2 separate regions of the Homo sapiens genome follow, and region 1 is linked to region 2. Evidence: fine-mapped expression QTL. A gene starts in region 2. The other region holds a variant in brackets. All regions are shown on one strand. Distances are between the middles of the regions.

Region 1 (5,378 bases), 48 kb before region 2:
TTTGAGCTTAGCAAGCTCCTACTGGACCTTCTCTCCTTCACTGGGGCTCAGCTTGCAGGGGTTCTAGAAATATCTCCACAGATCGCTCTTCCTCCCTGGGCCTCAGTTTCCTCATCTGCACAGTGAGGCCTATTAAGCCAGGTGTTCTGACTTTATTTTTATTTATTTATTTTGAGACGGAGTCTCGCTGTGTCATCCAGGCTGGAGTACAGTGGCGTGATCTTGGCTGACTGCAAACTCTGCCTCCTGGGTTCAAGTGATTCTCCTGCCTCAGCCTCCTGAGTAGCTGGGATTACAGGTGCCCGCCACCACACCTGGCTAATTTTTGTATTTTTAGTAAGGATGGGGTTTCACCATGTTGGCCAGGCTGGTCTTGAACTACTGATGTCAAGTGATCCACCCACCTCAGCCTCCCAAAGTGCTGGGATTACAGGCGTGAGCCACCGGGCCTGGCCTGTTCTGACTTTAAAGGTAGGGATTCAGAGGCAGAAAAGAGGAGGTAGACTGAGAGGTTCCTGGGGTTAAAGGCTGGCAGGGAAGCTGGGCAAATGTACAGAAGAGCCCCCTGCTTATGTTTCAGGGGCCAGGGCAAGAGTGTACATGGAAGCCTACATACCATGTGGCTAAATATTTAAAAAGCAAACTAACAAACTGTTGAATAAAGTATGTTCTATTGGTTGACCTTGAAAAAAGTATTTTTCTGATGAGTGACCTGTAAGGCCAAGTTTGAATGAAAATTCCTAGACTCCTTAGAGTCCCAACTCGGAGCATGCGGTGTGGAGAGAGCTGGTCCAGGGCCTCAGCTGTGGCTACAACAAGAATGTTCTCCCACTCAAGATCTCCTGCTCTAGGGAGCGGGGCTGACCAGGGACCCCTGCTGCTGTGCTCTGAAATCTATCTTTGCTGTTTCCGCCAACCACTGAGTGCAGCAGGGATGCTAACGGGGTCTATTTGTGGGAGACACGGGGCTCTTCTGATGGCTGCCTTTGTCTTGAGGACACCCTGACAGCCTTGCTGAACCTTTCTTTGATTTTGAGCTTAGCAAGCTCCTGCCAGACATTCTCTCCTTCACCGGGGCTCAGCTTGCAGCTCGACTTACTGGTCCTCCCAATCTTCTCCGGCTCCCTCCTTCTTTCCTTACACACAATCATTTCCCCTAACAAATCTTTGTTCCATTCACTCTATCTTGACACATATTCTTGGAAGACTTGGGCTAACACATTGGTCCCCCGCCGGCCCCCCTTTATCTTCTTACCCCTGGCTTCTTCCCACACCACGAGAAGCCCCATGCGCAGGTGTATGGAGCCTCAGGTACCAGGCTCTAGGTGGTGGCAGGCATGTCCCCTTGGCCTGCAGTCTCCTCATCCCGCGATGGTGTGGGGAGTGACGCAGGGCCATAGGGAGCAGGAAGGGGGCCCCTCTTGTCCGAGTCTAAAGTGGTAGTGGCAGGGAGCCTGTCCTTCCCCTGCCTTCCCTCCACTCCAGCCTCCTGACCTGAGCAGCTCTTTCTCATGCTCCCCGCCTCTGTGCTTTTCCAGAACACACTTTGTAACCACCTGGGATGGAGGTGGTGAGCATGTGTCCCAAGACCCATGCTTGGGATATATGCTCAGTGGTGGCTCCATCTGTGTCTTCTTTCACCCTCAGGAGAGTCTGGTGGAGAACAGAGGAAACTGAGGCTCAAAGACATTGAGTGAGCGTCCACACCCAGGTCTTCTGATGCCCACCGCGGGCTTTGCCAGGACGTCCCAGCCAGCAGAGACAGCCACGTGGTATCTCACAACTCCCCTCTCAGTCCCTAAGAAATGAGTGTGCCTTTCTTCTCATCTTTAAAAAAGAGCTGCTTCTTTCTACCTTGCAGCAACCCGACTGGGAGAATGGAGAGCCAAGCGTGTTGTCCCCAAGGCCAGCTAGACACCAGCCCTTCAGAACTTATCGTTATATTTGCAATCTGGGTAACGATAGGCAAATCTGGAGTCACACGTTCTCAGGGGCCTCAAGATGTCTTTCAGCTGGCTGGCGGCCCCAAGGACTTCTGGGTCTGGGCGGATGCTGTCCCCACACTGAACAAGGATGGAGTCTATGTCGTCTTGCACTGGGGAGGGGAACCTCCCCTGGAGAAGTCGAGGCAGCAACTTCTGACACACCAGCACCAGGCTCTGCTTCTCAGAGATGCTTTCGCAGGAGGGCAGCTGGGCCTGGCAGCCGGAAACCAGGCAGCTAAAAATGTCTTTATTCTCTCCTGCCCTGTTGGCTTCTTGGCTGCCTAGAAAAGAAATGGGAAGTATTACACACCCTGCCACCAGTGCTCCTTGAGGGAGGGCACCACTAATTAGAATTCCTGGGTGGGGCCGGGCGCGGTGGCTCATGCCTGTAATCCCAGCACTTTGGGAGGCTGAGGCGGGCAGATCACTTGAGGTCAGGAGTCCGAGGCCAGCCTGGCCAATATGGTGAAACCCCGTCTCTACTAAAAATACAAAAATTAGCTGGGTGTGGTGGCATGCATCTGTAGTCCCAGCTACTCAGGAGGCTGAGGCTGGAGAATCGCTTGAACCTGGGAGGCGGAGGTTGCAGGGAGCCAAGATTGCACCACTGCACTCCAGCCTGGGTGACAGAGCGAAAAGCCATCTCAAAAAAAAAAAATTACTGGGTGAACTAGTATAGTCTCCTAGCATTTCCCTGTCACCAGGAGATTTAGGACTCAGGGACACAGTGGCTCCTTTTGAGAACCACGTGGAAAGAATCCACTCTGCTACAATAGAGTGAGGCCTGGGCATGGAAAACCCACTTACCCCTACCAGAAGTTAGGCTGATAATTGTAGAGATCACATTCATATTGTTAGACTCTCATTATTACTAAATTAGTGAACTCAGGAAATTATTGGGACTGGTTTCATTTGCGCCTTTAAAATGCAAAGTGAGGGCCGGACATGGCAGCTCACACCTGTAATCCCAGCC[C/A]TTTGGGAGGCTGAGATGGGTGGATCACCTGAGGTCAGGAGTTCGAGACCAGCCTGGCCAACATGGCGAAACCCCGTCTCTACTAAAAATACAAAAATTAGCTGGGTGTGGTGACAGTCGTCTGTAATTCCAGCTACTCAGGGGGCTGAGGCAGGAGAATCGCTTGAACCCGGGAGGCAGAGGTTGCAGTGAGCCAAGAATGTACCACTGCACTCCAGCCTGGGCGACAGAGTGAGACTCTGTCTCAAAAACAAAAATAAAAATGAAAAACAAAATAAAATGCAAAGTTAGGAGAAAAAACAAGTAATCCCAAATATGTATTCAATGAGTTGTAGTGTGACTGACGTTTCATGATTTACATATCCGGAATATTCTGGAATCAGCCTCATTTCTTCTAATTTGATTCTTTTTAATAAAGGCAAATCAGGAAATAAATGTGTGGTTTAATTTGTCTATTTTTGTAGGCTTTTGCATACAAACAAAATCAGAAATTAGAAAATAAAATCCTTTGTCCTCTTATTGGGCTCAGAAAATTTGGTTAGCATTAGAGATTAGGGTGTTCGAAGGGTTCTAGATCACTGAATGAAACTTTACACATAGTGAGAAACACGATTCAGTCATCCACCTCATTTGGTTCCATGCTTTTTTACTTTGAAAACTTTATAAAGAGCAATTGTGCCAAAATGGATTGCAAAATATACCAGTGAATCAGCCTGATATTTAAGTTTTAGATAAAGGGTAAAAGCATCTGATGAGAAAGACTCTGAGTGGGAGATGGACCCAAAAGTTTTGTGTGTGTGTGTGTGTGTGTGTGTGTGTGTGTGTGTGTGTGTGTGTGACAGAGAGAGAGGAGAGAGAGAGAGAGTGAGAAAGAGAGAGAGAGAGAGAGAAAGGAGGGTCAAGGCAGGTCCCTGGGCCACATAGACCCAATTGCACAACAGCACTGCCCTGGGAGGGTGCAGCTGGGGCTGTGCCACTATGCACAATGCTTCTCATGGACAAGGCCAAATCCACTTCCCCTTTGGAGATGGAGTTAGAGTAGAAATTCAAATAGGAGTGAGGGACATTTTACATGAAATCTAATATTCTCCGAACTTGAGTGGCTCTCACTATGACATGCAGAGATGGGAAAGGCCCAATAGCATGACCCCTGGCCACCCCTCCCTAGCTCCTGTCACCCTGACTTTCCCTCTGACAGCTGCTCAGCCAGGCCCATGCTGAGTACCTTCCTGCTTGTCGATGACGCCCACTGCACTGGCATCCCGGATGAACAGATGCCCGTTGTTAAAGACGCCGAACATGCCTGCATCAATGTGGGTGAAGTAGAAGAAATAGTTCAAATCGTTGCTCCTCAAAGACTCCAGGACACCCAGGAGCTGGTAGGCAAGGTCGGCTGCCTGATCTGGGGGTGCATCATAGAATTCCTGCAGCGGTCTGGTGCTGGTGCTGACGAGGAATCTGCCACAGGAGCCCAGGTACTTGGGCAGCGGCCATCCCTCAGCCCCAGGGAAGATCTGCCAAGCCAGAAGGAGGAGGATTAGAGAGAAAAATCTGGTGACAGCTCTCTATCTGTCTATTATCTCTATCTATCTCCCTATCTATCTATCTATCTATCTATCTATCTATCTATCTATCTGTCTATCTATATCAATCATCTATATCTATCATCTATCTCTATCATCTATCTATCTCTATCTACCTATATCTATCTATCATCTATCATCTCTCTATCTCTGTCCCTCACTGCAAGTACAGAAAGATCAGCATCTCAAAACACATCAGTGAAGTGTCTCTCAACCTTTTTTATACCTCTTGGAACATGGCAATGCCCCATCCCTCCCCTTCCCCATTTTTTAATTATATTACTGATGGGAAGATTCAGAAAAGGAGGCTGCTCTCATTTCTTTGTAGTAGAGTGCATTTCAACAGAGTTCCTCCAAGCAGGGTATGAGAATGTTAATGGACTTGCCACAATTTTAGATAGCATCAGGGATTCAGGGAAATATGTTTAAGAGTTGCATAGTTGAAACAAATAGGATTATTTGAGATTTCACAGATATCACTGCTTAGGAAGAGGCTATGGGAAAAATAATAGAGGATCAACTTAAGTCTGATTTAAAGCAAAACTTTTTTTTTTTTTTAAGAGACAAGGTTTTGCTCTGCTGCCCAAGCTGGAGTGCAGTGGCATGATCAGAGTTCACTGCAGCCTCAAACTCCTATGCTCAAGCAATTCTCTCACCTCAGTCTCCTGAGTAGCTAGGACTTCAGGCACGTGCCACCATGCCTGGCTACTAAAGAAAAATATTTTAAAAAATAACAGTGGCTGGGTACAGTGGCTCACGCCTGTAATCCCAGCACTTTGGGAGGCCGACGCAGGTGGATCACTTGAGGACAGCAGTTTGAAGCCAGCCTGGCCAACA
Region 2 (5,378 bases):
AATTTCTTAATTCACACTTAGAAAAAGGGTGGCAAGGAAATGCAACAAAATGTTGACTAAGGGGTGATCTCTTGGTGGAAGAATTATATGTGATTTTATTTTGTGCTTTCTTTAATCAACCTTTCCTGAAAATACTAAAATAAACAGGCACGACTTTGATAATAAGAAAAAAGGTATTTATATTGTAGAGAAAAGGACTCTAAACAGGACCACCTCCCCAGACCCACTGACTGCCTCTCTCTGCCTCTTTGTGCTGAGGATGACCATTCTCAATGTGCAGAGCTATAAACCCCAATCTGCCCTGCCTGGTGTTTTCCTGCTTGTATCTGCACACTTCCCTTTCACGGGCACATGGAACATGAATTCTAAGGGAGATGAAGTAATATCCTGGACTCTAACGGAATGCAAACCTATTTAGGGAAATGCTTTCTGATTTTGGCTAGCATCTGCCAAATGCTAGTAAGAAAAACTTCATTTATTGCCCTTTGGTGAATATGCAGTCATCCTAGAGCTCTTCCTCAGTTGAATCCTTAAATTTCTCTCCCTCCTTTTAAAAAATATGTCTGCCTTCTTATTGCCTCTCTCCAAGGAATCAGCATTGCTTCACCTGTGTTCTTGGTCCTCTTTATCTCTTTTCCTAGGCGGAAAACCTTGAGTTCACATCCAACATCTGCATATTTATTTCCTCTCGCATAGTGTTGGTCAACAGGATGACTCTATAGCTGAACTGACCTGTATCCTTCCTGTTCTACTTTGTTCCCAGTGACTTGTGTCCTGGACTATGGCAACTGGTCTCACAGCCCCTGCCAACACCACCAGTCCGTCCTGTCCACTTTGCACGAGCTCTTCCCAAATCACAGGTCTCATGTTGCCCCTCCCCAGCCTAACACTCTCAGCATGGCCTGCAGTAGAGATTCCTCAATCAGTGGTCTTTCAAAAATGCCTTTAAAAACGCTTAATATGCCTTTAAAAAGGCTTAATAGGAAAAGTCCACACCAACTCCATAAAATACCTCACAAAAGAAGTTTAACATTTTTGATTGGTATTTCTATCTATTATTTCTATTTAGTAATTTGGTTGAGTAAGCAAAGATGTCTTTGATTAATACAGATTGCAAATAAAATCATTGTTAATTAATGCCTTTTGTTTGGTCACCAAATCTTAAAAGCGTAAGTTAGGTCCTTTGAGGAAGATGGAGGAGAAAGGGCATATATATGACAAAGGGTCTTTGGTACTAAAAAGACTGGAAACCACTGGTCCACAAGATTAAGGCCCCAATTCCTTGGCATGGCAATTAAAGACCCCCTGCCCCATATATCCCTTCAACCTCCTCCTCTGTCATGCCTCCACATACACCCCATGCTCTAGCTAAGCACCTCTCACTTCTTCCCACACCTTTGCTTAAGATGTTACTTCCACCTTAAGCCCTTCACTTCCCGTTACTTTTCAGCTCATCCTTTAAAAGGCTTTGCTCAGAATACCTTCTCCTGGGGAAGCCCTTCCCCAGTTCCCATTTGGAATTAATGGAGCTCCTGGAGGTCCTTTACACTGCCCTGCATCAGACAAAGCCTTATTATTATTATTTATAACATGACCCCCTTGTCCTGACCTCCAGGAAGGCAATGACCAGAGTTATAGTTGCTGTCACCCCAGTACCTGCTAGAGTTTGGCTGTGGTAAAGGCTCATGGACTGTGTGTTGATAGGCTTAAATTCCAAGTGTGATGCCATTCTTTGCTGAGAGCCATGTGCATTGCAATTTACTAAGCTCCAGTTTTCCTCTGATCAAGGCAATCTCTCACAACAGAAAGCTGGCTCAGAAACTTTGGAGCAAACCGTCCTGGTTTGAATTCCACAGCTGCTACTTATTCGGTGGTGACCTTGTGCAAGTTACTTAATCTTTTTTAAAAAATAAATTTTATTGTGTATATTTAAAGTATACAACACGATGTTGTAAGATACATATATATAGTGAAATGGGTCCCATCATCTCACAGAGTTACCCATTTCCCCCCACTGAAGTCACTTTATCTGGCTATGTCTCAGCTTACCACCTCAATAATGGGGGAACACCATTAACTCTCACAATGATTTAAAATAGGTGTCACATTGTAGGCTTTCTATAAATTTTATTTCCCGCCCACTGTGAGAAATGAACTTGATAAACTCAACAGTCCCAGGCTACTCCATTCATAGGAAAGAAAACTTCAAGCTTTCAGTTCAAAAGGAAATGTTGGATTTAGCATTTAGGGCTGGAATTTGGCTTCACATCTTGCCCTCTTACCCACCCCAACTTCAGACCATTACCACTCTGATTAAATGGATTTGTTTCAGCTCCCACCCATATTACATCCTGATTCCTTTTCAACAAATTCCTGGACATCTTCACAAGAAGGGAACAGAATTTTGTGATTCAGAGTTATTTGATTGATATTCTGACCTTATTTCTTCTTTAAAGAACTTCTTGCAAATAGATGTCCCGATGCAGGCATTGCATTTATCAAGACCGAGGAAAGTCCTTCCAAAATTGTAGCTGGTTCTGACTTGGGGCACCAGAGAAGAAAGGGAAGAAGCTGGCAAGGAGAAAGAACAGCTCAGGGCTGAGACCCACAGCAGCAGGGCCAGCCAGCCAGGGCGGAGGGCGGCAGCCTCAGGCCCCAGCTGGGGCTCCATCTTGGGCTCTGGGCTCCAGCTGCAGCCTCTGGCTGTCCACTCGAGGCTGTACAGAGGCAGGGCTTGGCCAAAGAGGAAGCTGTCAGAGGGGGCTGGCTTCTGGGTGCTGACCCCATCCCAGCCTCCCAGGTTTCTCTTTGAGGATGCTGAGGAGCTTGGGGCTAATGAGGCTGGGGAGGAGGTGAGGAAGTCAGTGGAGGATGCTGATAACGCTGTTTCCAGAGTTACTCTTCCTTTGCCGGGGGTGGCTGCTTCAGGCTGGGGAGGGGCTCGCTGGCAGATTTCGGGAAGGACAATTGTCAGGGCTTCCCTGTGTGGTCCTTTTGACAAACACAGGATATCCCGGCAGGGCAGGAAAGGTCCATGCAGGATGTGTGTCCAACCTGCGTTCCACCTGGGAGTTTCAAAGGATCCTGAAAGCCTCCACCCTCCACTGTTTTAATTCCAGGTTTATCTGTCCCTATGGATTACACGTGCACCCCAATTTTTGACCCCTCTGTGCTAGGTCATTTGTCCTGCCCCTTAATCAGCCCTCCTTCCCCCACTTTTACCATATTTGCCTGTGAAATAACTAGAGGTTAGCTTGCTTGCCATTAACTGGCACATTTAGCACTGATTTGAAAGCTTTTTGCTGCTTAGGGAAGAGAAAACCTCAGGTTAGTCCATCTTCTCTTGCTGGTCTGAGAACAAGAGACCAGAAAGAACCCGGTGGCCTCTGTGGCATGATGAGGGGAGCACCAGAAAGAGCCCTCTGACAGCACACAGCTGTGTCTATCCCTCTCCCACAGACCTGAAAGCTTCTCTTCCTTTACCAACTTGCTTCACTTCTCGGGGTGGCTTGGCCGGATTTGGTAGGATTTAACTGCCCCAGGATTGCCTTCCTCAGGATACCAAGATAAGGTCCGCAGCATGGAGTAGATGGAAGTGCTAATTTGGGAGTAGAGAGAACCTCTGAGAACCAAATCAGGGAAGTCAGGCTGCCTCACATTCTGTGAGAGGGTGGAGGTGGGGAGCGGGGCACGGTTTGAAAATATGAGAAAGTGCATAGGAAGATGGGGCTGGGGGTGAGGAAAAGGGAGGTAAGAGGGAGTGGGGATTGCCTCTGGACAATTGACAAGTTTTGCTAAAGATTGGTGGGAAGAGCAGGTAAAGGCAATTTTCTGATGATGAAGCACGTGCTTATTAGCATTTGTATAGCTTCCTCAGTAAAATGTCTGGTCATGTTTGCTTTTTATTGGTGAGTTTTGACGCTTGTTTATATATTCTAGATCCGAGTCCTCTGTTGGATATGTGGCTTGCAAATATTTTCTCCCCAGGGCTAACTTGTCTTTTATTCTTTTAACAGAGTCTTCTGCAGAGTGAAAGTTTTGATTTTGAAGTCCAATTTGTTAATTTTTTCTTTTTGAATCATGCTTTTGGTGTCAGGTGTGATAAAAGAAAAACTTAAGCACATTTAAATTTTAAAGAGTTTATTTGAATATTCAGCGATTCATGAATCAGGGCAGTATCAGACTGCAAACATTCTGCTGGGAGGGGCAAGAAAGGAAACTTTTATAGTGTTTGCAGAAGCAGGACAAAGAAAACAATTTTTATTGGTTAGAGTGGAAAGTCCCTAGTTAGAGATTAATTGGTGATTTTTTTGATTGGTACAATTTCTAGTTTAAATTTACTATTTACATTAGGCTTTGGTTTGTTCACACAGGAATTTAAAGTGCCAGAGCCACCTCAGTCTAATGGCCTTCCAATTAGAATTTTAAAACATAATTCATCCTTTTTGATCAGCCTCTCATTTAAGAGATATTGACTAAAACTTGGGCATAAGCTCCACTCTCTGTGACCATCATGGCTAAGTTGTCCTTGTCTCAGTGTGAAACTCATAAGTCACAACATCAAGCTCATTGAGGAAAGATTCCTTTTGTTGTTCATCTCATTTTTGTTGCTCTAATTACAGTGAGATCATCTGGCATACCGTTGATGACTGTGAACACACATTTAAGACCCTCAAGTGAATGTAGTTCACCAGGGAGATTATGATGACTACCAGGAGGATAATACTGAAAGACTGCAGTATGTTCCTTAGCCAAGGTCCTCACAAACCAACTCAACTAACATTTCTAGAGAAACAAAAGAAAACCAAAGGTCAATGACTAGAGCAAACTATAAATTCAGTCTGAGTCCAGAGGAAATTTAGTTAACAAGATTGCTAGATTTGAGCTTGAAACATATTTTTCTGGTTTGCAGTTTGAATGTCTCTGGTTATGGTACTGAGGGTTTCAATGATCTTCCTGAGTGGTCCACATATCAGGCATAAGGGTTGTCCTCAGAAGTCACATCAAGTTGTCTATAACTGCCTGGCAGGGTTTCAGGAACAGAGCACATCTTGTTCTGAGTGATTTCAAGTCTGAAAAATGGGAAAAAATTGGATTGGAGGAATAAAGATGAATTCAGAATTCAGTCCAGTCTACAAATAGACAATAAAACTCAAAAACAACAAATATGGCTACAATCTACTATCAAAAATTATGCACAGATCTTTTCAGACATTACAGGGGTCCTCTGGAATGTCCCAAAGTTAGTTCTAGGTCAAAAAGACTTAATTTAGAAGCTTATTTTGGGAAGTTTGTAAAAAATATCAAAAAGTCTAAAACACTTGATTAAATAGGATCATTAGTCATTATGAAACAATGAGAGGCAAATACAGAAAGGT

Which allele goes with the higher level. Alleles are on the strand shown, and positions count from the first base shown. SD is a standard deviation of normalised expression in the study named.
With allele C in place of A in region 1, the expression in esophagus mucosa of the gene that starts at base 2,721 in region 2 is lower (small effect, 0.15 SD a copy in GTEx).

Evidence for each region. PIP is the estimated chance that this variant, and not a neighbour inherited with it, causes the effect.
Region 1: its variant is the best candidate, but not a certain one, in a credible set for the expression of DIPK2B in esophagus mucosa (GTEx, PIP 0.53).

The regions. Positions count from the first base shown.
Region 1 is chrX:45,149,727-45,155,104 of GRCh38, forward strand. DIPK2B (divergent protein kinase domain 2B) reads right to left here. Exons shown (of 5, transcript NM_176819.4): 4 at 4,184-4,472; 5 at 1-2,266. The coding sequence ends at 1,926. Among named protein-coding and RNA genes, the nearest start is that of DIPK2B, 48 kb to the right of the region's middle. The variant C/A (reference allele first, on the strand shown) is at 2,959.
Region 2 is chrX:45,198,156-45,203,533 of GRCh38, forward strand. It overlaps DIPK2B (divergent protein kinase domain 2B), which reads right to left and starts at 2,721. Exons shown (of 5, transcript NM_176819.4): 1 at 2,439-2,721. The coding sequence starts at 2,671.